7 linked regions of the Homo sapiens genome follow. The protein of the gene in region 5 purifies or fractionates together with the protein of the main gene of each other region. This does not show direct contact. Each region holds a gene or a part of one and is shown on either strand. Other genes may lie near its edges.

Region 1 (3,798 bases), on a different chromosome or scaffold from region 5:
CTTTGAATCCCAATCCAAACCTTTTCCTTTTGCCTTGCAGCCAATTCCTTAATGTTCATGATCACTTCTTACCAATAGCTTCTTCAAATGCAAATAAAACAGTTTTCCCCTGGTCTATTAGCTGTTTGGCTCTGTTTCCCATCCACTTAAAGCCAGTTAATGTTTCCTAAAGGGATAATCCAAAAGAGAAAGACATGCCTTAGATCTTCTACAGAGCAGATGAAAGGAAAATGAGTGAGTCCCAGAAACACCCTACCTCAAAATGAAAACCTTCCTTTAAGGCAATGGCCCGCAAGATTTTGGAGGAGACGGTGCTGGACAACATGTACGTGTCTTTGAGAGCACTGCGATCCTGGTTCTTCTCTTTCCAAGATGTAAAAAGCCACCAGCCCAGGAGGGCCCCCAACTCATTGCCTGAAAACACCCTCCATTCACCACTGAAAGAAAAAAAAAACAACAACCACCATTCATTTCCATAATCTTAAGGAAGACTCTAAAGTGTCATGGGGATAAAACAATTTAGCAAACAAAGCATCTAAGTATTTTCTGCAAGGCTGTTCTTGTTATTCATCATCTTTAAATAACTGGTCAGAAATGTAACTGCCATTTTACAAACATCTGAGCAGCTACCATATATATCAGCCAGTTTGCCTGAACAGACATCCTGTCTTTGAAGACTGTATAAAATAAGTATGTCACACATGACACACAATGGCTCTATATTAATCTTTGGCAAAGCCTTTGGTTTTAAATATAACAAATATGCTGGCAAGATCCCCCATATATAGAGTAAGTTTTGCTATCTCAATTTCTGGACTGGTCAGTATTGCTGATTCTGAGAGGGGACAGCTCAGTACCCCTTAAGATCAAGCTCAGTCCTAAATGGTCAGAACATCAGAGAAAAGATGTGTAATTTCTGCTTCTCTTGGCAGTCCAGATGGCTAGAAGTAAATCTCACCTATCAGGACGTATCATCTTAGCTTAACTTTCTCAACACTGATATAGAATGGAACCTGTTTTATCACAATCTGAAAACCCTACCATTTCAGCAGCAGCACCCTCCTGCCCCCAAAACATCACATAGGCTACCTGACGCCCAAAATTGCTTGGGCCCTGCCTACCTTTCAACTTTAGCCCCACGTACTTACTTCTCCTTTGTACAAACTCTCTGGTCAGACTTGTCTTAAACACTGTGCCGATACCCCACAGGAATTCCTCCCTGGTCTGTCCAAACTAAATTCAGCATCTCCTTGAAGGTACTGCTCCCTCCTAAACCCCTCAGCAAATACTGAAGCATACAGCTAGCACCAAAGTGCTTTACCCTCATTAGACACTGAGACATTACTTATAAAAAGATCAATTACAAAATGAGAAGTTCCCAAATAGGAGTTTCAATTTGAAATATATACTGGGTTGATTTACTCTGCATTATGCTTGCCAATCACGTAACCTCCCCCCACACTAGATCTCTATCTTGCTCTCCATTAGAAGACTCTACAGGAGGTTCAGTGAAATGATCATTTGCAAAATAAATGGGAAATGTTTCCAAATAGGTCCCGTCTCCCCAGAAACATTTTACCAATGAAGAGATCATCCTTTATATGTTCTATAATATAGGTAATCACAATTAATTTTACCTGTCTTGCTTTTCTGCCACAGCAAGTCTATCAGCATCCGGGTCGTTAGCTAAAACAATTCTGGCCTTGGTTTTGTCAGCCAAAGCAAAAGACAAAGTCTGAAGAAGAATATGAAAATAAAAGATTATTTAATCAAGAATCGAGCATATGATAGTCTTTAAAAACATTCAGTTCCTTAAGAACTCAAGAGGTCTTTCCCCTCTTAGAAAGATAATATAGGACCAACCAAGACAGCTCCAGAAGTGAAATTTAGCAAACAAAAGCTGCAGCTGGTCTTGGTTGGTCACATAGTATCTTCCTAAGTCAGAGGTCAGATAATGGGAGCATCGGTGTGTGACCCAAGCCTACCAGTGTGCCTGCTGCACATGCGCCAGTAGGTCTGTGGTTGGACTGGTATTTCGGGGCATTGCTGTGTGATCAGCCTCACAAATAAAACAAAATAAACTGATTCTCTGAATGCCACTGCTACCCCAACCTTTAAAAATGTTACAGAAACCATAATGTAAGCAACACTTCATATCAGAAAAATGACAAGAAATAAAAATCATAACCTGCTAAAGTTTCACTCTATTACTGCTTCTTTTTGGCATTAAGGAGACACGGCAAATTAAATTAAATTAAATTAACTGAATTTGAAGCACCATTTAGAGCTCAGTTCTCATATCCTGATCCTGGGGTGTTTAATTTGAAAGATCCTTTAAGAAATTAATGACTAACAAATATACATACTTCTTGTTTTTTTTTTTTTTTTTTTTGAGACAAAGTCTCGCTCTGTCACCCTGTCACCCAGGCTGGAGTGCAGTGGTGCAATCTCAGCTCACTGCAACCTCCATCTCTCAGGTTCAAACAATTCTAGCGCCTCAGCCTCCCAAGTGGCTGGGATTACAGGCATGTACCACCACACCCAGCTAATTTTTGTATTTTTAGTAGAGACAGGGTTTTGCCATGTTGGCCAGGCTGTTCTCGAACACCTGACCTCAAGTGATCTGCCTGCCTTGGTCTCCCAAAGTGCTGGGATTACAGACATGAGACGCTGCACCCAGCCAAACATACATATTTCCATGCTGAAATTAGTTTTTCTTCAGCACAATGAAAACACATAAAAATGTATTTTACTTGACAGTAATAGTTTTGAATATAAAAGCAGATTTCATAATTTAAAAAAAAATTAGGTTACCAAGACACCTTTCCCCTCTTCGGGATTCGGGTATTTCACTGTTGGAAACTCAGGATCCGGATCTTTCTGTTCAGGAACAGCCTCAGGAGGAACAAGGTCAAAAGCCTTGAAAGCTGACTGCACAAAGCTATGACCCACCCCATGGACAGAGGTGTGCACAAACTTCACCTTTGTCTCCCTGTTCACGCTCCTAGAATCAGATACACAGTGGAAAATGATACAAGGCAGAAACAGGGCTCTCAAAACTGCAAGGTTTGCAAGAATGCACAAGACAACTGAACATCTTTCTAATTCCATTTCAGAAAAACAAAACGTATCCATTCTCTCCCAGATATATATATTCCTTCCCTCAACATACTCAAGTTTTAAATTCTACTCTGTAGTTATTTTCAGCAAATCTGATTATTTCAGGTTTTGTTTTATGCATCCCATCTAGAGTGAGATACAAAGAAGAACCTCAAGCTCATGTTCCCACACGAGACTCACTGCTGGCCTGACAGGTGCCCTGACAGTGCTACAGCCAGCCCGGGACAGTTCCAGGGCTCCACACACCCACACATCCCCAAAGCGACAGGTTCCCAAATGTCTTTTATCAGCTTCAGAAATGATTTTCAAAATGTCCTTTTTAACAAAATGTGTTGGGTTATCCCATACATAAAGATATAAAAAATAAAACTTTTACTTTGGGAGGCCGAGGCAGGTGGATCGTGTGAGGTCAGGAGTTCAAAACCAGCCTGACCAACACAGAGAAACCCCATCTCTACTAAAAATACAAAATTAGCTGGGCATGGTGGTGCATGCCTGTAATCCCAGATACTTGGGAGGCTGAGGCAAGAGAATCGCTTGAACCTGGGAGGTGGAGGTTGCAGTGAGCCGAGATTGTGCCACTGCATTCCAACCTGGGCAACAAGAGCGAAACTCCGTCTCAGGAAAAAAAAAAAAATAATAATAATAAATAAATAAAACTTTTTGTTTGCCAAGTAA
Region 2 (3,798 bases), on a different chromosome or scaffold from region 5:
ATTAGCTGGGTGTGGTGGCAGGTGTCTGTAATCCCAGCTACTGGGGAGACTGGGGCTGGGAGAATTGCTTGAACCCAGGAGGCAGAGGCTGAAGTGAGCCAAGATGTTGCCACTGTACTCCAGCCTGAGTGACAGAGCAAGACTGTCTCAATAAATAAATAAAGAAACAAACAAACTGCTGGGTGGAGGAGCAGTGAGAACAGACACATCATCTCAACTGCCTCCATACGGCTAATTACAAGGGAATCAAATGGGGGAAACCGAAATCATGTGCCCCCGGCAGGACAGAAGCAGTGTCACTCCTGTGTGATTCCTGCCAAAACAGATGACGAATATGACCACAAGCAAACATCAGACAAACCCACACTGACAAAATAAGAAGCAGTGAAATATTTCTGTAAAAGATGAGATGGTAATTATTTTAGGCACTCTGGCCACGCATGAGCACATGGGCAACTGTGCACCAAGTGGTCACAGGCAATGCATGGGCATGGCTGTGTTCCAATAAAGCTTTATTTGCAAATCAGACAGCTGCCACACTAGGCCCCTGCACTTGGCCCAGGGACCACAGTTTGCTGACTCTTGTTATACAATACTTACAAGCCTGTAATCTTCAAAGGTGTCCAATCATGTGCAATGAAGAATTAACTTTACCCAAACAGAGGACTGACCTTTGTCCCTTCTTAAGTCCTTGGGATTTCCTGAGTGATAAGGAGTGCCTCTGTTTTCCATGGTGGCCCTGAGGGCTTATGCTAAGAAGGGACTCAGGGCGAAGACCCACCACTTTGGGGCCCACGGGGATGGGAGCGGGAGGACCGGGGCTGGAAACTGAATTCCTGGGATTTTCTGAGAAACTGGAGATTTTCAATCAATCCCGCCCAAGTATTAATACCCCAACAAAAACTCCAGGCATGGCCTGCGTGGTGGCTCATGCCTGTAATCCCAGCACTTTGGGAGTCCGAGGCGGGCAGATCACTTGAGGTCAGCAGTTCAAGACCAGCCTGGCCAACATGATGAAACCCTATTGCTACTGAAAATACAAAAATTAGCCGGGCGTGATGGTGGGCACCTGTAATTCCAGCTACTCAGAAGGCTAAGACAGGAGAATCGCTTGAACCCGGGAGATGGAGGTTGCAGTGAGCCGAGATCCCACCATTGCACTCCAGCCTGGGCAGCAAGAGCGAAACTCCATCTCAAAAAATAAAAAAAAATAAGTTAAATAAAAAATTAAAAAATTTTAAAAAAAAAGTTAAATTTAGTTCAGGTATGATAGCTCACACCTGTAATCCCAGCCATTTGGGAGGCTGAGGCAAACGGATCACCTGAACTCAGGAGTTCAAGACCAGCCTGGGCATCATGGCAAAACCCCATCTCTACTAAAAATATAAAAAATTAGCCGGGCATGGTGGCGCGCACACCTGTAGTCCCAGCTACTCGGGAGGCCGAAGCATGAGAATTGCTTGAACCTGGGATATGGAGGTTGCAGTGAGCTGAGACGAAGCCACTGCACTCCAGCCTGGGCAACAGAGTGAGACTGTCTCCAAAAAATAAAAGAAAAAGGGGCGGTGGGGGAAAGCAAAACACATAGGTGATTTTTTTTTTTTTTGAGACAGAGAGTCGCTCTGTCACCCAGGCTAGAGTGCAGTGGCGTGATCTTGGCTCACTGCAAGCTCCGCCTCCCGGGTTCACGCCATTCTCCTGCCTCAGCCTCCCAAGTAGCTGGGACTACAGGCAACCGCCACCAAGCCCGGCTAATTTTTTGTATTTTTTAGTAGAGACGGGGTTTCACCATGTTAGCCAGGATGGTCTCGATCTCCTGACCTCGTGATCCACCCACCTCGGCCTCCCAAAGTTCTGGGATTACAGGCGTGAGCCACCATGCCCGGCCACATATAGGTGATTTTATTTTTTATTTTTATTTTTTGAGACGGGTCTGGCTCTGTCTTCCAGGCTGGAGTGCAATGGCGTGATCTTGGTTCACTGCAACCTCCGCCTCCCAGGTTCAAGTGATTCCCCTGCCTCAGCCTCTCAAAGTAGCTGGGATTACAGGCGTGAGCCACCGCGCCTGGTGGTGATTTAAGTTTAGGGCCAGGTGTGGTGGCTCACACCTGTAATCCCAGCACTTTGAGAGGCCGAGCTGAGCAGTTCACCTGAGGTCAAGAGTTGGAGACCAGCCTGTCCAACATGACGAAACCCTGTCTCTACTAAAAATACAAAAACTAGCCGGGCGTGGTGCCACACACCCGAAATCCCAGCTGCTTGGGAGGCGAGACAGGAGAGTCGCTTAAACCAAGGGAGCACAGGTTGCAGTGAGCTGAGATCGCACCACTGCACTCCACCCTGGGTGACAGAGCAAGACTCCGTCTCAAAAAAAAAAAAAAAAGAAAATGTAAGGAGTGGCAGAGATTAAAGACAGGGCTCTGAGGCAGAGAAACATTGTCCCAAACCTTCCACCTTCCTGGGCAGCCCCTGATCATTTGGGTACCTGTGGCCTGTTCTGACCTCTGCTGCCTTTTCTCATGGTGCACTGGCACCGCCATGCTCCTCACCCGCGCTCCTTCCTGGGCCCCTGCATGGGTGCTGCTGTCACCCAGGATGTGTTCCCAGGCTACCCTGTGCCCTGCCAGGGAAGCTCCACAGGCCTGCTTGTCTATGCAACCGTGACGGCTTAGAGCCAAGGAGAACGTGCAGACTGCTGGGAAAATTAACAACAGAGGTCCCTCCCTGCAACCCCAGCTCAGCCCCTGAGAGCGAGCTGTGAGAAGATGTTTTCCCACAAAGTGAGCCCAAAACGCAGGCTCACCAAGCCGGTGGCCGAGGAGGTGGACACCAGACACAGCTGCATGCCATGAAATAGAGGGTGAGACAAACCCAGGCCTGCCAAGCCGACATTTCAGAACCAGGCTGCAGGGGACGGTGGCTGGCAGCCCTGTGTGGCCCTTGCATGCACTGCAGCGGAGGGTCACGAGAAAAAGGCAGAGGACCCGAGGCTCTGTCGTCACCCACCCCAGGCTGCGAGACTGGATGGCCCTGCAAGACAGACAATGCCACCCAAAATCTGCAGGCAGGGACAGCAGGAACTCCAAGCAAAACCAGATGCCAGGGAGACCCACGTGGGGAACGACTGTTTTGTCTTTTAGGCTGAAAATCCTCAGGTGCCCAGCTATCCACAAGCTTCCACTCACTGCTGGAGGAAATTTCTGTGAAACTTCTGGTGAAATCTCTGAAGGCACCAGAAGCCGAGGCACTTGCTGAGAAACTGACCTAGGCCTGGCAGATGCTCGGAGGCAGGCAGAACAGGACCACACCCTCCCTGCCTCCTTCCTGCCCTGACGCTCCATTCAAAAGGGCTTTGGGGGCTGGGCACGGTGACTCACGCCTGTCATCCCAGCACTTTGGGAGGCCGAGGCGGGTGGATCACGAGGTCAGGAGATCGAGACCATCCTGGCTAACACAGTGAAACCCCGTTTCTACTAAAAATACTAAATAAATAAATAAATAAATAAATAATTTAGCCAGGCATGGTGGTGGGCACCTGTAGTCCCGGCTACTCAGGAGGCTGAGGCAGGAGAATGGCGTGAACCAGGGAGGCGGGGCTTGAGTGAGCCGAGATTGCGCCACTGCACTCCAGCCTGGGTGACAGAGCGAGACTCTGTCTCAAAAAAAAAAAAAAAAAAAAAAAAGGGCTTTGGGCTAACAGGTTTCTCTCAAAGCCAAGAGCTGGTTCCACCAGGCTCAGGCTAGCAGGGCTTTGTGGCTGCAGGAATTCCGGGATCTGACAAAAGCAGGAATGCCCAC
Region 3 (3,798 bases), on a different chromosome or scaffold from region 5:
GCTGGGCGCAGTGGCTCATGCCTGTAATCCCAGCACTTTGGGAGGCCGAGGCGGGGGATTCACTTGAGGTCAGGAGTTGGAGACCAGCCTGGCCAACATGGTAGAACCCCGTCTCTACTAAAAAATACAAAAATCAGCCGGGTGTGGTGGTGGATGCCTGTAATCCCAGCTACACGGGAGGCTGAGGCAGGAGAATTGCTTGAACCCAGGAGACAGAGGCTGCAGTGAGCCAAGATCATGCCACTGCACTCTACCTGGGTGACAGAGTGAGACTCCATCTCAGAAAAAATAAAATAAAGAAAGAAAAAGAAAAAGAAAACTATAAGGACCATCTGCAAATGGAAAGAAACGCTTATAAATTCTGCTTAACTCAATCCCAGTCTCCATTTATCACAACAAGCTGTAAACAATCCAGAGAGAAACAAAAAGAGTTATACTACTTAACCTCAATCAGAAAATGAGTTGTACAGACATATCCATTTCCTTACATTATTACATTTGTTAATTGAGGTTTTACTCCATTGAAAAAGACTCATTATTTTAAATATCATTAAAAATCCATTACTTATTTTCTCCTGGATCATTTTGCTGCTAGTTAGACACAAAAAAGATTCAAAGATTTCCTTTAAGAACTTACCTTTCTAAGCATTTCATTATCTTGAACATTATTGAGTTCATGTGAACTAATCTCTCCTTTCAGCATATACTCATAAAATTTTCCACTAACATTTACCAGTAAGGTAGTTGGACTTGACTGCACTTCACAGCTCAGGGTCACATTATTTACATCACTCGGAACATGAATGCCATACCGAAGCACAAGGCCCACCAAAAGACCTGGAAAAAAGAACAACATAAGCTCTTCTTGCCGACAGAGACCACTTCTTTTGTACCCCACGCATAACTATGGATAAGAGAAAATCTCTTACGGTAGTTCCCTGTAGCTCAGAACTGATTTTTAGATGAAATGCAGTTATGTTTTAAAATATTACTAAATTCATACAACAAACAGCCCAATCTTCATATAATCCAGTGAAACAGGAGAGAAAAACATTCCCTAGGACAACAGCACAGATCACTGCATTTCTAGATCAATATTTAAATAAGTAATGAGGAAGGTAACAAAAGGAGAAAATATCTTCAAATCATCTGTAGACAGAATATGCTCCAATGTGTCCCAACTCGACAGTGCAATCGTGTTAGAAATGTGTTTTCTGGCCAGGCGCGGTGGCTCATGCCTGTAATCTTAGCACTTTGGGAGGCCGAGATGGGTGGATTGCCTGAGAGCTCAGAAGTTCGAGACCAGCCTGGGAAACTTGGTGAAACCCCAACTCTACTAAGATACAAAAAATCAGCCGGGCGTGGTGGCGGGCGCCTGTAATCCCAGCTACTCAGGAGGCTGAGGTGTGAGAATTGCTTTAACCCAGGAGGCAGAGGTTGCAGTGAGCCGAGATCATGCCACTTCACTCCAGCCTGGGCAACAAAGTGAAACCCTGTCTCAAAAAAAAAAAAAAAGAAATTTGTTTTTCACCTCCATTCATCAATTTATAAGACTTAAACAATGCACTTCGCAAGTTTATTCCCAAAGCACATGACTGGCCAAACAATGCACATTTAACAAATTGAAAAGTCAATAATATTTGTAGGTTGATTGAGTTCTTCTACTTCTAAAAGATCAGATTTTAATTTTAAAAATCTGCTTCAAAATCAAAACATGGAATAGAAGTCCTGAATCTGGCACTATGACATCAAACAGATTGCTGGATCATCCTACTGACATTCAAATATGCACAATGTTCTAGGTACTGTAAAACTAAATTTTTTTTTTTTCTGAGACGAAATTTTGCTCTGTTGCCCAGGCTGGAGTGCAGTGGCATGATCTCGGCTCACTGCAACCTCCGCCTCCCGGGTCCAATCAATTATCCTGCCTCAGCCTCCCAAGTAGCTGGGATTATAGGCTCACACCAACACACCTGGCTAATTTTTGTATTTTTAGTAGAGATGGGGTTTCACCATGTTGGCCAGGCTCCTGACCAAGGTCGAACTCCTGACCTTGTAATCCATCCACCTCGGCCTCCCAAACTGCTGGGATTACAGACCTGAGCCACCATGCCCAGCCCTATAAAACTATATTGATCGACTATAATTGTTTAGTAATGGCTTTACTGATATCTAATTCAAACACCAAAAGTTTATCCTTTTAAAAACTGTACAATTCAGTGGTCTTTAGTGTATTCACAAAGTTGAACATCAATCACCACTATCTAATTCTAGAACATTTTCCTTCCCTCCAAAAAGAACCCCACACCTACTAGCAGTCACTCTCCATTCCCCCATGCCCGAATCCACAGCCCCTGGCAACCACTCATCTACTTTCTTTCTTTATGGACCTGTCTTTTCTAGACATTTCATATAAATGAACTCCTACAATATATGGCCTTTTGTGTCTGACTTCTTTCACTTAGCATATTTTCAAGGTTTATCTATGTTGTAGCATGCATCAGAACCTCATTTACTTTTACGACCAAACGATATTTCATTGTATGGACATACCTCAACTACAAATAAAACCCAAACTTCTGGAACTTTCCTTAACTCCATGCATAGTATACCACTACTAGCTGCATTTTACCTTCCTATTGCCTTTCATTCTGACTAGCCAGCCATTCTTTTAATACGTGAATGAGTGTACTATGCTAGGTAGGCCTCCAGGGTTCAGAGATGAAAACAAGGTCCCTCCTTCAAGGAAAACTCGGTCCAGTTGGTGAAAACAGACTGAATAAACAATCATAATGTCAAGGAAAACTCGGTCCAGTTGGTGAAAACAGACTGAATAAACAATCATAATGCTATATATATATATGTATACAAGGTATTATAAAAACAGAAAAGAGACAACTATGCAACCCTGGGGGAGTAAGACATTAGGGAAGTCTTTCCAGAGATGTCACCTGGGCAGGTAACAAACTAGAAGAAATGGGTATATTCCACGTAGGGGAATAGTAGTACATATCAGTCAAGGATGGAGACAACACAGCCCATCCAGTGAATCAAGTAGTTTAGTATGGCTGGCTTATAAAGTGACAAGAGTTGAGGTTTGAAAGATTGGCAGGAGTTGAATCATAAAAGATCTTATCTGTTGGGGAAGGGAATTTGAAGTTTATCCCAAAAGTAAAATGAAGTCATAGAAGGCAGAGGCTTGATAGCAGATTTCTACTTTAGAAAGACTGGTCTAGACTAAAGAGGGTCTAAAAGGCTAGATACAGGGCTACTGTAGGCATTCAGGCAATAAGAGTTTAGGTCCTAACCTAAGAGAGTACTGACAGGAGGCGAGAAGGATTTTTTGAAGGTATTATATTTTAGGAAGATTTAGTGACTGAGGAAGGGAGATGAAAGACTAAGAGGAACCTTAATTGATTTGGTAACCAGGTGGGTAAGTTGGCCTGAGCACCGAGGGGGATAACAAGGACATTCAATGAGGTAAGGAACATACACAGATGAACAGATTTACAGGGGAAAAGGCTACATTCAGTTTTGGACACGTTGAGTTGGATGTACTTGTGACACACGCATAGTTGAGTATGTGGTATCTGGAGCTAAAGCGAGGGGTCTCAACTGGAGATATACACTGTGCAGTCATAAGATGGTTGAAGTCAGATGTAGATGAGATCGCCAGGGGAGCAAGTAAAATGGGAAGAAGACTATGATATAGATCTGGGGTTTGATCTATTAACAGCCAACATTAAGGGGCTGCTAGAGGAGAAGGAGCTGATGAAGGAGTCTGAGAAGGAAAACCCA
Region 4 (3,798 bases), on a different chromosome or scaffold from region 5:
CAAACTGAACTCTAAAATTTTTGTCTGTAAAATGACTTCAGTAGTACTTGGCTACTGAGGAGACTCTTCCTAGATCATAAACATGGTTTAACCTCAGGGAGTGAAAATAATATTGCTCATTACTTTCCTTTCCTAGTGATATCAATGGAAAAACTCTTGGCTGCTTAACCAAGAAAATAAAAGTGTTGTTGGGGGGGTATCCACGGTAGGGGCTGAATTGGTAGGGAAGAATCCATCCATAATTTTTTTTACTTCTTACCTATGAAGGATTCCAGCTTTATGGATGCAGCTCACTGCTGAAACAATCTGAAATAGGTACCACACCACCATCTGCAGAGAAAAAATAAATATTTGGATTAGAAACAAAAAGCTCCATTTAAGTAAATACACACACACATAAACAAACAAAACAAAGAAAACTGCAACCAGAAGTTATGATTCAACATGACTTGACATCTCTTCCTTGCAGGTTGAGTAGGCAAAGAAAAGTGAAGGGGTAAAAAACCACAAAAAACAGGTTCCTCATAAAATAGTTCCAATGTCATTATAATATATAGTATGGTAAAGCAGACATGTAGGAAAATTCAGGAAGAATGCAAAGTTATAGAAAACTGGGCATACCAGTACGCAGTAATAGAACCAGGAAAGAAAGCCCACAGAGAATCATGATGTGGAGGTAAAACGTTTAGGAAGCAGCTATAGACAGCTTCCTTGTTAGAGGTTTCCTTTCTCATGAATATCAGAGCCTGGAAGGAGTCTGAACAAAAGGAAAAAAACACTCTTCACTATTGGAAGAGTAAATACAGAACTAGAATGCAAGAATTACAACACTACAATTCTAACTTCCTTCCACAGAAATATGAATTACCTCTTCCTCAAACAACTTGTCCTTCTGACGAAGGATTTTGTCATACAGGTTCCCTCCTGCAATTAAACAAGACACAGATTTGAATTGCTTAATACAGATCAAAGCTTGGCTCCTGTAACAGGTTTTTTTAGGTGACACAAGGAAATGAAGGATTCTGCTTTCTCTCCATAGGCAACTACTTCTTTTGACTTTTCACATGGGCACAAAACTCTTCCCATCTCTCAAGGACCGCATCAGAAATATTCTTCAAAGATCTCCCTCTCTAACACAAGAGGCGTAATTAAAAAAAAGACATTTTTAGAAAAGATGTGAGTAAAGACCATTCTTGTTGTTCCCAACAAGTGAAGTATATTCAAAATCAGATTTCTTTTCTAGAACTCTCCTTTAAGGACTCTACAATATTTTTGTAACAACTCTCCCAGTTGTGACTACTATAACATCTGGATTAGGCTGGGCACATTGGCTCACGCCTATAATCCCAGCACTTTGGGAGGCTGAGGTGGGCAAATCATTTGGGTTTGGGAATTTAAGACCAGCCTGGGCAACACGGCAAAACCCTTGTCTCTACCAAAAATACAAAAAGTTAGCCAGCTGTTGGGGCATGTGCCTGTGGTCCCAGCTAATCAGGAGGCTAAGGTGGGAGGGTCGCCTGAGCGTGGGAGGATCGCCTGAGCCTGGGAGGCGGAGGTTGCAGTGAGCTGGGATCGCACCACTGCACTCCAGGCTGGGTGACAGTGAGAGTCTATCTCAGGAAAAAAAGAAAAAAATTGGGTTACACCTGTGATGCAATGTTTTGTATTTATAGGGTATATATTGACAAATTTTCTACTTCACACCGAAATATTTCCCAAAATTTAGGGTCTACCCCTAGACTGTTTCCTATCATTACTCTCTTTACTAATTTCTTCCTGTGGAATAAGTGTGAATTTACTTCTCTCTTTCCTTTACCAAGTAATACAGACTGCAAGTAATCATGGTTCATCTTACATCCCACCTGCAACTATAACTTACACTTTAGCCCTGGGTAAGTTTTTACAACTTCTTTTCCCCTGCAACTTAATAACTCAGTTTCAATAAATGTATCATTTGTTCCAGTTCTTCCTAACCACAAAAGAAGTTAACTACCTAGGGCTTCTGCTACTTCGAAAATTTTTAACAGAATCTTGTATATGGCATTGATCACCAATGATCATAATATACAAGAGTTTACACAAGGAAGTCGTAAGTGACGAATATGCTGGGACCTCTTTAGCATGCAGTTCAGAAAAGGGCTTTGGAGGTTCTCCTGTGCAATAAGATGATTAACAGCTAGTACAGTATGTAGCAAACACTTTCTACCTACCAAGCACTATGCATGTAATACAACAATCCTAGAAAGTAGGTACTGTTATCAACAAACTTTTTTTTTTTGAGATGGAGTCTCGCTCTGTCACCAGGCTGCAGTGGCATGATCTCCACTCACTGCAACCTCCAACTCCCTGGTTCAAGCGATTCTCCTGCCTCAGCCTCCCGAGTAGCTGGGATTACAGGCACGCGCCACCATGCACAGCTAATTTTTGTTATTTTTAGTAGAGACTGGGTTTAACCATGTTGGCCAGGATGGTCTCGATCTCCTGACCTTGTGATCCTCCCAAAGTGTTGGGATTACAGGCGTGAGCCACCACGCCCAGCTTTTTTTTTTTTTTTTTTTTTTTTGAGACAGGGTCTGGCTCCATCGCCCAGGCTGGAGTGCAGCGGTCTGAGCTCACAAGCTCACTGCAACCTCTGCCTCCCAGTCTCAAGCCATCCTCCCTCCTCAGCCTCCCAAGTAGCTGTGACTACAGGTGCACACCACCCAGCTAATTTTTTGTATTTTTGGTAGTGACAGGGTTTCACTATGTTGCCTAGGCTTTCCTCAAACTCCTATGCTCAAGTGATCTGCTTGTCTTGGCTTCTCAAAGCGCTGGGATTACAGGTGTGCACTGTCCCTGGCCAACAAACTCATTTTAAAATGACAAAACTGCTGGGCATGGTGGCTTAAGCCTGTAATCCCAGCACTTTGGGAGGCGGAGGTGGGCGGATCACCTAAGGTCAGGAGTTCGAGACCAGTCTGGCCAACGTGGCAAAACCCTGTCTCTACTAAAAATACAAAAATTAGCTGGGCGTGGTGGCGCATGCCTGTAATCCCAGCTACTTGGGAGGCTGAGGCAGGAGAATTGCTTGAACCCAGGAGGCGGAGGTTGTGGTGAGCCAAGATGGCACCATTGCACTCCAGCCTTTACTCCAACAAGAGTAAAACTCCATCTCAAAAAAAATAATAATAATAATAAAAATAAAATGAGGAAACTGAGGCACAGAGAAGTTAAGTTTCTTGCCAAGGTTATAGAGCTAGAAAGTAGAGAAACTTGGTTTTAGAGTCTATTTTCTTAACAACTAGGCTATATTGCTATCTTACAAGCAAAATGATGTGAAGAAATCAGGGACCAGATAAATAGGGCCATGCTTTACTATATATTACTTTCACTCAGTTATGATCTTTGGACCACTTTTCAATAGGATAGCTTTAGCTGAAGACAATATAAATAAATATCACCTATAAGATCTTATTAAATACTGTATCAAGTGCTGCCAAGCCACACTCTGGTTAACTAATGTCATTTCATAAAGAAAAACCTTGAAAAATAAAGGTAAAATCCAACCAAAGAAAAGATAGTTTGAAAATGGAACTGTAATCACAAGAGAAAATTTGGGTATGCAGGGGAAAATCCCTCTCCTTATTTCGTACACCACTTCAAAAATTCTCCAAGGCCTGAAAAGTTTCTCTTAAACTCTAGAAATTCATTTAAAGTTTTTATCACTGTATATGTCTCTTCTTATATTCTTCTCCTCAACGTAATTATGAGTCTAAGAAAGTCTTGCTGGAAAAGTCCCACTGAACTCTATCTTACCAT
Region 5 (3,798 bases):
TGACCTGTGTTCTAGAAGGACTAAGGAGAATTAGAAAAAGCCCATGAATTATTCAATGATGTCCACCATAACTCAGGGAAAGGAAGAAAATCCTTCTGCCTTCCTCGAGCAGCTATAGGAGGCCTTAAGAAAATATACTCCCCGGTCACCCGAATCACTCAAGGGTCAATTGATTCTAAAAGATAAGTTTATTATCCAATCAGCCGCAGATATCAGGAGAAAGCTCCAAAAGCAAGCCCTGGGCCCTGAACAAAATTTGGAGGCATTATCAAAACCTGGCAACCTCAGTGTTCTATAATAGGGACCAAGAGGAACAGGCCCAAAAGGAAAAGTGAGATTGGAGAAAGGCCGCAGCCTTAGTTATGGCCCTCAGACTAACAAACCTTAGTGGTTCAGAGAGGACAGATAGTAGAGGCCAATCACCCGGTAGGGCTTGTTATCATGCGGTTTACTAGGACACTTTAAAAAAGATTGTCCAATGAGAAACAAGCTGCCCCCTCGTCCATGTCCACTATGCCGAGGCAATCACTGGAAGGTGCACTGCCCCAGCGGACGAAGGTTCCCTAGGTCAGAAGCCCCCAACCAGATGATCCAACAACAGGACAGAGGGTGCCCGGGGCAAGCGCCAGCTCATGTCATCACCCTCACTGAGCCCCGGGTACGTTTAACCATTGAGGGCCAGGAAACTGACTTCCTCCTGGACACTGGCGCGGCCTTCTCAGTGTTAATCTCCTGTCCTGGACGACTGTCCTCAAGGTCTGTTACCATCCGATGAATCCTGGGACAGCCTGTAACCAGGTATTTCTCCCACCTCTCAGTTGTAATTGGGAGACTTTGCTCTTTTCACATGCCTTTCTTATTATGCCTGAAAGTTCCACACCCTTATTAGGCAGGGACATATTAGCCAAGGCTGGAGCTATTATCTACATCAATATGGGGAACAAGTTACCCATTTGTTGTCCCCCTACTTGTGGAGGGAATCAACCCTGAAGTCTGGGCATTGGAAGGACAATTTGGAAGGGCAAAAAATGCCCGCCCATTACAAATCAGGTTAAAAGATCCCACTGCTTTTCCTTATCAAAGGCAATATCCCTTAAAGCCTGAAGCTCATAAACGATTACAGAATATTGTTAAACATTTAAAAGCTCCAGGCTTAGTAAGGAAATGCAGCAGTCCCTACAACACCCCAATTCTAGGAGTACAAAAACTAAATGGTCAGTGGAGACTAGTGCAAGATCTTAGACTCATCAATGAGGCAGTAATTTCTCTATATCCAGCTGTAACCAACACCTATACCCTGCTCTCTCAAATAACAGAGGCAGCAGAATGGTTCACAGTTCTAGACCTCAAGGATGCCTTCTTCTGTATTCCCCTACACTCTGACTCCCAGTTTCTCTTTGCCTTTGAGGATCCCACAGACCACACGTCCCAAATTATGTGGACGGTCTTGCCCCAAGGGTTTAGGGATAGGCCTCATCTGTTTGGTCAGGCACTGGCCCAAGATCTAGGCCACTTCTCAAGTCCAGGCACTCTGGTCCTTCAATATATGGATGATTTACTTTTGGCTCCCAGTTCAGAAGCCTCGAGCCAGCAGGCTACTCTAGATCTCTTGAACTTTCTCGCTAATCAAGGGTACAAGGTGTCTAGGTCAAAGGCCCAGCTTTGCCTACAGCAGGTCAAATATCTAGGCCTAATCTTAGCCAGAGGGACCAGGGCCCTCAGCAAGGATGGAGAGGGAGGACAGGGAGGAGAGGGAGAAGGAGGGGAAGGAGGGGAAGGAGGAAGGGAGGAGAGGGAGGGAGGGGAAGGAGGAAGGGAGGAGAGGGAGGGAGGGGAGGGAGAAAGGGGAGGGAAAGAAAGAAAGGGACCTGGGAATATGTTAATGGACAAAACAGAAAGAAATAGTTTACTGTCTGTCTTCCCCACTGAGTTGGGAACGCCATGACAACAGGGCCTGGGACTGTCCTAGTCAAGACTGGGTTCCCAGCACCAGGCTCTGGGCCCTGTGCAGAAATCAGTGTATGAAATATTTTGCTTCTGGTTCAGTCCTAAAGGGCCAACCCTCCCACGGACAACTACATACGCTGGCTGGACAAGAAACAAACAATTATCTGAAGGCACTGGGCAGATTCTGGAGGGAGTGACCACTTAGGAGAGTGGCAGAACACTCTCTCGGTGTTTTTGAAAATGGTTTTGAAAACTTTCAGCCTGAGGGCAGACTGAAATTGTGCTTGAAGAGCCACAGGATAGAGTCCAAGGTGACCAAAGCTGCCGGGAAGTGAGGGGGGATATTCCAAAGAGGGGAGAGCCAGAGCGAGGAGTCCCGAATTCTGTGTATCAACTCTGCCCTAATCTCTTGCTGGGAGATGTATGTTTTTGTTGTTGTTTTTGTTTTGAGATGGGTTCTTGCACTGTCACCCAGGCTGGGTGCAGTGGCACGACCACAGCTCACTGCAGTTTTGACCTCCCTGGTTCGAGCCATCCTCCCACCTCAGCCTCCAGAGTAGCTGGGAGTGTGGTCATTCATCACACCCAGCTAATTTTTGTTAGAGACAAGGTCTCAGTGTGTTGCCCTGGCTGAAGATTAGTTTTTAAATCTTTTGCTGGGGGTGCATGTATGGTCTGTAAATCAGCAAGAAGCCAGGCACAGTGGTTCACGCTTGTAGTCCCAGCACATTGGGAGGCCGAGTCAGGAGGATCGCTTGAGTTCAAGAGTTGAAGACCAGACTGGGCAACATAGCAAGACCTCATCTCTACAAAAAAATAAAAATAAAAACAGAAAAACCAAAAAAACTAATTCCAACTAAGCTACCAAAACACGAAACTCAACACTCTTTGGAACTATATGATAGAATCCAGAGTATCCACATCTTATTCCTATATCCCAATATCCAAGAAACAATCCAAACTAACTCAAAATACAAAGAAACAGGAAAGTGAAGCCGTTTTCTTTTTTTTGAGACAGAGTCTCGCTCTTGTCACCAAGGCTGGAGTGCAATGGCGTGATGTAGGCTCACTGCAACCTCTGCCTCCTGGGTTCAAGCGATTCTCCTGCCTCAGGCTCTCCAGCAGCTGGGATTACAGGCATGCACCACCACGCCGGGAAAATTTTTGTATTTTTAGTACAGACGGGGTTTCACCATGTTGGCCAGGCTAGTCTTGAACTCCTGACCTCAAGTGATCCACCCACCTCAGCTTCCCAAAGTGCTGGGATTACAGGCATGAGCCACTGAGCCCAGCCTGCCATTTCCAAGCGAAAAGATGATAAGGAGACTGACCCCAAGATGACCCAGATGTTGAGATTAGAAGATAAGGAGTTTTTGTTTTGTTTTTATTTTGTTTTTAGAGGGAGTCTCGCTATGTCACCCAGGCTGGAGTGCAGTGGCGCCATCTCGGCTCACTGCAACCTCTGCCTCCCAGGTTCACGCCATTCTCCTGCCTCAGCCTCCCGAGTAGCTGGGACTAAAGGTGCCCGCCACCATGCCTGGCTAATATTCTTTTTTTTTATTTTTAGTAGAGATGGGGTTTCACCATGTTAGCCAGGATGGTCTCGATCTCCTGACCTCGTGATCCGCCTGCCTCGACCTCCCAAAGTGCTGGGATTACAGGCGTGAGCCACCACACCTGGCCAGAAGACAAGGATTTTAAATCAGTCATTATAACTATGCTCAATGGCAGGAAGAAAAACATGCATGACAAAAAATATACAACTGACCAGGCACAGTGGCTCACGCCTGTAATCCCAGCACTTTGGGAGGCCGAGGGGGGCCGATCACTGGAGGCCAGGAGTTCAAGACC
Region 6 (4,326 bases), on a different chromosome or scaffold from region 5:
TACAGAATCACAGTATATTTTTTTCCCATAGAATTTTTAAAGCTAGAAAGACCTCAATTCCCATTCCTTTATGTCCCACTGAGTCCCACATGAGAAGCTGAAACTCAGGAAGGCCAGATGATTAGCCTAAGGGTACAAGAACCAGATAAATGCAGGGCTGGGAATTAACTCCGTATTCCTAGGCAGTACTCAGATACCTAGGCAGTATTCTTTTCACTACATCATGCAGCATTTCAACTCATTTCTTCCGCATCTACTTAGTCTAGAACATAAAATTAACTATATCACATGAACTCTTCACAAAACAATTGACTATAATCACATGGTATGGTGAATACCGATATATTTTTGGCTATTTTCAAGAATGCCTGCAAGGAATAAAGGTTTCAAGTCATAAATGGACCATTTCTGTTATTATAATTACTTCTGTTCTGGAAAAAAATACTTCCCTTATCAGATATTATGACCTTTAAGATTCCCATTTTCACAAATTATTTTTCATAAACTACACATATGTATGCTCAACTACGCAGCGTCTTACCCAACAATAGCTTAAGCAAACCACATATCTCAAATAAAAATGTCATCTATTCCAGGCTCATCAGCATATGTTAGAATCTGTTCCTAAAATAGACTCATAGACTTTTGGAATGGGAAGGAACCTTGGAGATCACCTCTCATTTCACAGAGGAAAATAATACACAGCAGGGACCTGCCCAAGGTCAAAGTGTCTTCATAAGAACCCAGGTCCAGAATAGAAAGTTCTCAAAAGATTTCAGAGAGAAATGCAATATTTGGTGAAACACCTTAGCTTGCCTCCCTTTACATCTACTTTTTTTTTTTTTTGAGACAGTGTCTCTCTGTCCCCAGGCTGGAGTGCAGTGGCACGATCTCGACTCACTGCAAGCTCCGCTTCCCGGGTTAACGCCATTCTCCTGCCTCAGCCTCCCGAGTAGCTGGGACTACAGGCGCCCACCACCACGCCCGGCTAATTTTTTGTATTTTTAGTAGAGACGGGGTTTCACCGTGTTAGCCAGGATGGTCTCGATCTCCTGACCTCATGGTCCACCCGCCTCGGCCTCCCAAAATACTGGAATTACAGGCGTGAGCCACCGCGCCCGGCCTACATCTACTTCTTAAGTACAATTTCCTGCATAGGAAACTTTTGAAATTTAAGAAAAGAAAGCAAAACAAAAAACTAAGCCAACCTTTTTTTTTTCTTTTTTCTTTTCTTTTTAAGTCTACAGCCAAGTCACTGATTCTAAAAGCTTAGAAGTTAAGGTAGACCATTGCAAGAATCTTAAGAGGTAACATTTTGGGGTAAAATCCCCAAGGCTTAAGGATACAATGTAAGTAAGACACACAAATTAAGAATAGCTATAATATTCTTATCTCTGTAACAAATTACATGGAGGATAGCTCATAAGTAGGAAAACTTTGTAAACATGCAACTTTCAAGGAAGAGAATTTTAGTCATCATACCTATTAACTATACAAGAATGCCAATACATTTTGAAATTTTATCTTGGTCTCTGTGCTTAAGCTGGAAATTTTTTTTCAAAATATATATCTTAAGTCATGTAAAAAAAAAAGCAGTAACTTGAGGAAAACCTTTTATCGACCCTTAATTAAAAGAAGGCCTTAAATCAAACCTTATTAAGAGAAGTATAAGCTATATTGTCCGGTCATGTTTGAAAGAATACATGAAAACTGAACATTCCTCAAAGTTAAGGCATGAATAGGACTAAGGACATGTACGTTTTTTGTTTTTGCAATGAAAGGCACACTATGCAAGCCAATTTACCTGTAGAAATATGTTTCTTAACTCATGAGGATCCCCTCGCTTAGTTGTCTGCACCTGTAAGCAAAAAAGAAAAAAAAGCCAGTTAATGCTTCACTAGAGACCACACAATCTCTTCAGATTAGAGGTCACATGGCTAACAATCAATGCTCCTATCTTTTATCATTTAGTTTAAAACAAACTAAAAGCCCTAATTGCTGATAAGAACTGTCAAACTGGATAACTGTGACTAGAGGGCAGAAAAACAGGTGCGAATAGCCTAAGATACAGCAAAGCTATCGGACAGTGCTTCCTCTGGACTGGAAAGGGAAGGCAATGAGGATCTTTTACTTTATTCCACATCTACTAGCAACACAGTAGTAACCACCCACCTTCAAATCAAGAAGCTAACAAGAGTAGATCAACAGGAAAGTTAAATCACCCAAATTAATCACTTGGCCTAGCAGCCTTTCTCCATAAAAAGCAAACCCAACATGTAATTATCTCCGCGTCCCTCTCCCCATCCAACCTAAAATATGAGAGCTGCCACAAATACAAATACTTTCCATACCCTGCAATCTGCAACGCAAAAGCCAACCACTGCCCTCGGCCTTATTGAGGCCCCAAATTACTCAATACTTACTCCCTCCCCCACCGCAATTCACTGATACCCTAGGTATCCCCAGCTTTACTTGCCACTTCCTCCCACACCCTTTCTGATGCCCTCCAACTCCGGACTCACAATCCCATGCACCTAGGACAGGACATTACTCTTCCTTCACTGACCCGTGTTACCGTACAAGCCCCTTCAACTCACAATCCCTCCTCCTTCCCCTCCCCCAGCCGGGCATCCCCTCCTCCGGTCCAAGCCCCGCACAGCTCTCCCCGCAGCAAGCCGGAGCCCCAGGACAAGCTATCTAAGACCTAGACAATGAATAAAATGGGAAGCAGTGGGGGGCTGCAGGCAGGGCGCTCGGAATGTCTCTTATGCAATAAAAGCAGCAGCAGAGAGTTGGAGTCACCTTGACCGCCATGCTGTGCTCGGAAGCCGGGGACGAGCGAGTGAGCGAGCAGGGCCGAGCTGTCAGGGCGCGCGCGCGCCGTCTTCCCGGCCGCGCCCGCCCTCCCTCTCGCCGGCGCCGCGCGCGTCCCTATGCAAATGAACTCGGGGCGCGCCGCGTGCGGAAAGGGGCCCGGCGTCCCGGCCAGAAAGGCAGCTGGTCCAGGGCCGGCCGGCCGGGCGGAGGAGGGGGACGCGCCTCCCACGGGGAAAACAAGCGCGACCCATGGGATCCCGACGCGCCGCGTGGTTGCCACAGCTAGGTCGCCGCCAGGAAAGCCCCAGGTTTCCTAAGGCCTCTTAGTGGGTGTGGCTTTGGGCACCGACCAGCCAAAGTCGTTTTCCCCGAGGCTTAAAGGAACATTTGGGGCCTATACTGAGCAAGGTTCCGACGGATCAAAGAGCACTTCCCATTAATAACAATGAATTAATGACAACTGATGGCAAATACCGACAAAACAAGATTGGGAACCACTCACTCTAGGGAAAACCTACGTAAACATAATTTGAGAAATATGCTCCTAAATTGGCATGGGACGAATACGCTGAATTTATTTTTGCTTTGCGTGCTATTACAACGGTTTATTAGTAGACTCGCTCCACTTTCCTAATCACCCAAATCCTGTGTGCAATGAGAAAAAAAACTCTATGTGTCTTTGACAGGGCTGGCAATGAATCGCTTGCCCATACATGAACAGAAAGTAATTCTCCATTCGATTTCTAGCCCTACCTAAGAAGTAGAAGAAGCAGTAACTCTATCTTGAACCAAAACAATGTTTCTAAACCCGTCTTGCCAATATCACTGTATTAGGCTACATATTGATTCAAACATGTATGGGCATCCATTATATGCCTGACATGGTCCTGCTTGTAAAAAACGCAAATAACCTATAGCCCCCACCCTCTAGGGGCTTACAGATGGTCAATGCTTCTCCACAACCCCAATCACATGTGTATTGTGTGTATGTGTGTCTGTGTGTGTGTGTGTTGAGACTGAGTCTCGCTCTGTCGCCCAGGCTGGAGTGCAGTGGCACCATCTTGACTCACTGCAACGTCCACCTCCCAGGTTCAAGAGATTCTCTTGCCTTGGCCTCCCGAGTAGCTGGGATTACAGGCACCCGCCGCAATGCCCAGTTAATTTTTTGTATTTTTAGTAGAGACAGGGTTTCACTATGTTGGCCAGGTTTGTCTCAAACTTCTGACCTCTGGTGATCCGCCCACCTCGGCTTCCCAAAGTGCTGGGATTACAGGCGTGAGCCACCGCGCCCGACCCTGTGTATGTTTTCATTTTTAATTTTTTGAGACGGAGTCTCGCTCTATCGCCCAGGCTGGAGTGCAGTGGCGCCATCTTGGCTCACTGCAACCTCTGCCTCCTGGGTTCAAGCAATTCTCCTGCCTCAGCCTCCCAAGTAGCTGGGATTACAGGTGCACGCCACCATGCCTGGCTAATTTTGTATTTTTAGTAGCTATGGGGTTTCGCCCAAGC
Region 7 (4,560 bases), on a different chromosome or scaffold from region 5:
ACAACTTAATGACTAAATTAATAAATATGAATACTGTAATCTTTGTTTTGTTGCTTGTGTTCTTTTACAGATTAGAATTTGGTCCATAGTTCTTACGTTTGTTTTGGGAGAATATTTTGACCCACTTCTAAGAAGTGTTTCACCTGATCCTGGCTATTTATGACTATGGCTATTGGACTGGATGGGTTCCAGGCATACACTGTCTTGCCTAAAGTAGCGGAATGCGACATCCCTGAGGGTAAGCAAGTGTGTTAGCTTTGTGTTCTGTGCCCTCCTCCAGAAATGACAGTACTTGCTGCAAGACTGTGAGCTCATCGAGGCAGAAGCCATGGCATTCAAATTAGTTTCCTGAGCCAGAACTTAACATCTGCCACAAAGTAGGCAGTTCAGTGAGCTTTTGTAGTTTCCAACTGGATGCAGCACTATGACTGCTTTTAGCTACTAACAGGGCCAGGCACTGAAACAAGCTCTAAATCCCCACAGAAAAATCACTCTGAGCCATCCATCCCTAAATACCAACCTGTGCATGCTATTCACCGTGCCAAGAGCGTTCACTCATTTTTGCTTCTCACAAATCTTTTTTTTTCTTCCTATGGCTTGCATGTTTTGAATGACAGCTAAATCCTAATGCGGACTGTTTATACAATGGAGTCCCACGGAGCCCAAAGATTGTGGTAATATTATTACAGAATTCTCATGATCCTTTTATTATTTTTTAAAAATGAGCCGTATGAATGTGGTAATACTATTAAGTGTCCGGCTCGATGAATTCCTCCATGTGTACACAGCCCGGAACGACCACCAGGATCAAGACGCAATGTTTCCAGCTTTCCATAGGTTCCCTCGTGCCCCACCCCTCAGAAGTAAACGTTATTCTAACTCCTATCACTACCGGTAAGTTTTGTAGGGAATTATTTTGGAGGAAGTGGAAGGTGGAATGAATGGGCCCACAGTCCCCTGGGACTGGGCGAGACCCGTGGAGGCTCCAGGGGTCCGTAGAGCTCTTCGCTCTCACCGACCCGGGCCACACCCGCCAAGCTGGTAGTTCTCCGAACGGATCCCTCACGCCCAGCAATGGCCGGAGGGCCCCCGGGCCCCACCATAATAGCGCTAAGCACGCCACAATGGCAGCCCCGCTGTCTCCCGCGCGGGCCTCGCTGCGTGCTCCCAACCTTGGGAGTTGGCGCCCCTCCCGCGCGACGGACAGCCGGGCGTGGCCCTGGGCGCGACCCGACAGGACGCCAGCAGCCGGCGGGGGCGCTCCAGGACTCGAGATGTGGGGCGCGGGCCCATTGGCTGAGCATTCCCCCGCGAGCCTCCCGGCCGCAGGGCCCACCTCCCGGCCCTCTCTCCGCGCCCCCATTGGCCGTTCGCGTTCCGCGGGCGTCCGCTCCCGCCCCACTCCCGCCCGGAGGGAAACCGGGTTGGGGGTGAGAGGCTAAAGCAGGGAGGAGGATGACTGGTCCTGCGGATAAGGGTGTGCGCGAGAGCCAATCAAAAGCGGATGTCGAAAAGAGGCGCCGCTCCAGCCAGTCACGTCGCGAGGTGCGGTCGGGGCCGGCTGACGCGACTGCGGGCCTCAGCCAATGGGCGTGCCACTGCCCGTCCGCTCTTCAGCAGCCGGTCGCGGGCGGTGGAAAAGCGAGTGAAGAGAGCGCGACGGCGGCGGCGGCGGCGGCGCAGCTATTGCTGGACGGCCAGTGGGAGAGCGAGGCCTGAGCCTCTGCGTCTAGGTGAGAAGGGGGTGCGCCAGCGGGAGCGGCCGGGCTGCGGGCTCCTCCTCGCCTGGCTCGGGAAGTGGTTGCGGGAGCTCGGGCTGCAGGCCTGGCCGAGGCGGGGGCGCCGACCAGCCGTCCCGCCCCCGCCCCCGCCCGGGTACGCCCAGAAGTGAGGGCGCCCGCCTCACCCCGGGTGGTCTCTGCCCCTCTTTGCCCCGCCGCCGCCCTTCACAGGGCCGGGACCGCGTGGGGGACGTACGGTGGGGCCTGGTTTGCAGCCGCGGAGCCCGGGGAGCCGCCTGGGGTGGGAGGCCGCTAGAGGTGGCGAAGGTGGGGCGGGGTGGTTAGCCGAGCAGCGGGCTCCGCGTGCTCGCGGGAGGGTAGCGGCAAAGGGAGGCCTAGTGATTGCAGGATTCCGGGTCTGGGGAGGAAGAAAGTGGTGGGAAATAGGTGATGCTCAGAAAAGGGTGCTGAGGGAGAAGGCGCGGGGCCGGGGAGTGTGGTTGGCCTATTAGAAGTAAGGATTGATAGGGCCTGGGTGGAGATCAGCTGGGAGTGAAGGGGGGACGGGCTTGGGTTTTGAAGGTGAAGGTCTCTGGAGAACTGGGGACACGTGGATCTGGAGTAAGAGGCACCTACTGAAACCGGAAGGTGGCTGAGAAGGTTTTATGTGAGGTGTGGACGGGAGGCTATTGGACTAGAAGGCATTAGTTGGTCTGTTAGGACAAAGTATACAAGCAGCAAACGCGGTAGATTTATGTGTGGTAGGTGAAGGCTGTGAATCTTTTATGAGTAGTTGAGCAAGAACAGTTGTCTGATTCTGCGGTGTCGGAGAGTGGAGGGTCTCAGGTAGTGTCTTGGTCAGGTTTGAAGGTTAATTTACTGCTAGTGGAGGGCCAAATACTCAAAAGAGTTTTTAATTCTCACTACTGGGGCTGATCCTCCTCCTACACTCCACCCCTCCTGCCATCCCTGTGACAGTTCATCTCGTTTTGCCTCAGCAGCACAAGAACTCACTCCCTCCGAAGTAATGGCATACATATTGTTTGCTTTTGACTAGATGGCAGTCAGGAATCCCTTAATTCTTTATGTTAAAAAAAAAAGTGTTGGTTTAAAGACAACATCAGAAGATACTCTCAGAAAATCTGCCCTCCAGGGGAGTTTCTCAGCTGTCATGTTGGGCATGTGTAATATAGCATAAAAATGATGCAAGATCTCTTACAGTAATACAAGTGAGAATTAACGTATAAGTACAATCCTGATGTATTTTTTTCAAATTAATTTAAAAAGTAAACAGAGACAGGGTTTGCTGTCGCCCAGGCTGGAGTGCAGTGGCGAGATCATAGCTCGTTCCAGCCTCAAACTCCTCGGCCCAAGAGATCTTTCCACCGTGGCCTCTCAAAGGCTTGGGATTACAGGGGTGAGCCACCCCACCCAGGCCCTGTTATTCCATACATTTTCCATAAAATTATTTTATAATTTTTGTTTTGTTTTGTTTTTATTTTATAAATTTGTGTGTGTGTGTCTCGCTTTGTTGCCCAGGCTGGAGTGCAGTGACGCGATCTTGGCTCGCTGCAACCTCCACCTCCCAGGTTCAAGTGATCAGCTCTTGCCTCAGCCTCTCGAGTAGTTGGGACTACAGAGACATGCCCCACCGCACCGGCTAATTTTTGTATTTTTAGTAGAGGCGGGGTTTCACCATATTGGCCAGGCTGGTCTCGAACCCCTGACTTCAAGAGATCCATCCGCCTCGGCCTCCCAAAGTGCTGGGATTACAGGCGTTAGCTGCCGCGCCGGCCAAAATTATTCCATAAATTTATCCATAAAAATTCCACATAAATTTTCTGGAGTTTGATTATGTATTAGGCTTGTTGGGAAATTTATTACCCTTGTGAAGAATTTTGTAGCTAAGTAGCTTGAGGGTTTTTTTTTTTTTTTCACTCAGGAAAGACATGGTATGTATGCATCACTGCTATTCTATTTGAAGCTTTTGGAATTTTTATTTATGGGGTGTGGATAGAGGCTGGAGGCAGAGACTGAGGTCAGAGAAGAGGTAGTAGAAAAGAAGGTGGCCCACTACCATATTTCCAGTGTATTTAAATGGGAGATAGAGTTTCTGTTTGAGGATAGGACAAAAGGTTTGTGAAGAGTTATAGAGTCAAGGACAGAAGCCAAAGAGAGCATTTGCTGTGTAACATGTTTGCTTGTTAACCAGATCAGCAAAGCATTTTAACTAATGGACCATTATTTATGATCTAGAAACAATTTTGTGAAAGCGATTTCTTAGTGATGCTGTTTACTGTGATCACATTTGCCCTTAGTATAACAATACCTAAGTGCTGAGGCGACTTGCAGTAGAGAAGTAATCTGAGTGGCGTGGAGTGAATCAGGGAAGGTTTCCTGAAAGAGGTGAGTTTTGAGCCATCATGTGAACTAGAAGTTGGGATGTGGGTTATTACAAGACATGAGGATGACATTCCAGTAGTTTGTACTTGGTATAAGCAACTGTGGACAAGAGTGACAAATTAAAAATGGTTTTTAAGGATGATTGAAGATTCGAATGAAGATTTAGGGGTTTGGAAATCAACCAAGGCTATGTTGCAGCTTAGCTGATAAATAATTTTTTATGTTGGTTAGGAGAGAAAATTAACAGTTGATAATGGATTGGAGATAGGTAGTAAAGGAAAGAGCATAAAATATTTGATAGTTATAGGAGAATGAAGTGAAAGTAAGGTTATTGAGAGGTAGGTTTAACAGTCAACCATATATCATAAGTTGGAAACATTTTTGAGTCCTGTGCTAGAGTATATTGATAATAATAGCAAAATTTATTGGGTGCTAC

The links.
Region 1: the proteins of ECH1 (region 5) and PGM2 fractionate together in Homo sapiens (co-fractionation; one large-scale study listed by BioGRID). This does not show direct contact.
Region 2: the proteins of ECH1 (region 5) and ADCK5 purify together in Homo sapiens (co-immunoprecipitation; one large-scale study listed by IntAct). This does not show direct contact.
Region 3: the proteins of ECH1 (region 5) and SLC9A6 fractionate together in Homo sapiens (co-fractionation; one large-scale study listed by BioGRID). This does not show direct contact.
Region 4: the proteins of ECH1 (region 5) and NEK9 purify together in Homo sapiens (co-immunoprecipitation; one large-scale study listed by IntAct). This does not show direct contact.
Region 6: the proteins of ECH1 (region 5) and SLC25A12 purify together in Homo sapiens (co-immunoprecipitation; one large-scale study listed by IntAct). This does not show direct contact.
Region 7: the proteins of ECH1 (region 5) and FAR1 purify together in Homo sapiens (co-immunoprecipitation; one large-scale study listed by IntAct). This does not show direct contact.

The regions. Positions count from the first base shown.
Region 1 is NC_000004.12:37,843,570-37,847,367, reverse strand, and holds part of PGM2 (phosphopentomutase), read right to left. Parts: intron 3,005-3,798; coding exon 2,815-3,004; intron 1,736-2,814; coding exon 1,638-1,735; intron 438-1,637; coding exon 257-437; intron 167-256; coding exon 73-166; intron 1-72. UniProt on the Homo sapiens protein: Catalyzes the conversion of the nucleoside breakdown products ribose-1-phosphate and deoxyribose-1-phosphate to the corresponding 5-phosphopentoses.
Region 2 is NC_000008.11:144,383,772-144,387,569, reverse strand, and holds part of ADCK5 (uncharacterized aarF domain-containing protein kinase 5), read right to left. Parts: intron 1-3,798. UniProt on the Homo sapiens protein: The function of this protein is not yet clear. It is not known if it has protein kinase activity and what type of substrate it would phosphorylate (Ser, Thr or Tyr).
Region 3 is NC_000023.11:135,991,825-135,995,622, reverse strand, and holds part of SLC9A6 (sodium/hydrogen exchanger 6), read right to left. Parts: intron 838-3,798; coding exon 638-837; intron 1-637. UniProt on the Homo sapiens protein: Endosomal Na(+), K(+)/H(+) antiporter. Mediates the electroneutral exchange of endosomal luminal H(+) for a cytosolic Na(+) or K(+).
Region 4 is NC_000014.9:75,120,251-75,124,048, forward strand, and holds part of NEK9 (serine/threonine-protein kinase Nek9), read right to left. Parts: coding exon 3,796-3,798; intron 925-3,795; coding exon 869-924; intron 331-868; coding exon 260-330; intron 1-259.
Region 5 is NC_000019.10:38,825,291-38,829,088, forward strand, and holds part of ECH1 (delta(3,5)-Delta(2,4)-dienoyl-CoA isomerase, mitochondrial precursor), read right to left. Parts: intron 1-3,798. UniProt on the Homo sapiens protein: Isomerization of 3-trans,5-cis-dienoyl-CoA to 2-trans,4-trans-dienoyl-CoA.
Region 6 is NC_000002.12:171,891,401-171,895,726, forward strand, and holds the start of SLC25A12 (electrogenic aspartate/glutamate antiporter SLC25A12, mitochondrial), read right to left. Parts: upstream 2,845-4,326; 5' UTR 2,815-2,844; coding exon 2,803-2,814; intron 1,859-2,802; coding exon 1,805-1,858; intron 1-1,804. UniProt on the Homo sapiens protein: Mitochondrial electrogenic aspartate/glutamate antiporter that favors efflux of aspartate and entry of glutamate and proton within the mitochondria as part of the malate-aspartate shuttle.
Region 7 is NC_000011.10:13,667,074-13,671,633, forward strand, and holds the start of FAR1 (fatty acyl-CoA reductase 1), read left to right. Parts: upstream 1-1,594; 5' UTR 1,595-1,733; intron 1,734-4,560. UniProt on the Homo sapiens protein: Catalyzes the reduction of saturated and unsaturated C16 or C18 fatty acyl-CoA to fatty alcohols. It plays an essential role in the production of ether lipids/plasmalogens which synthesis requires fatty alcohols.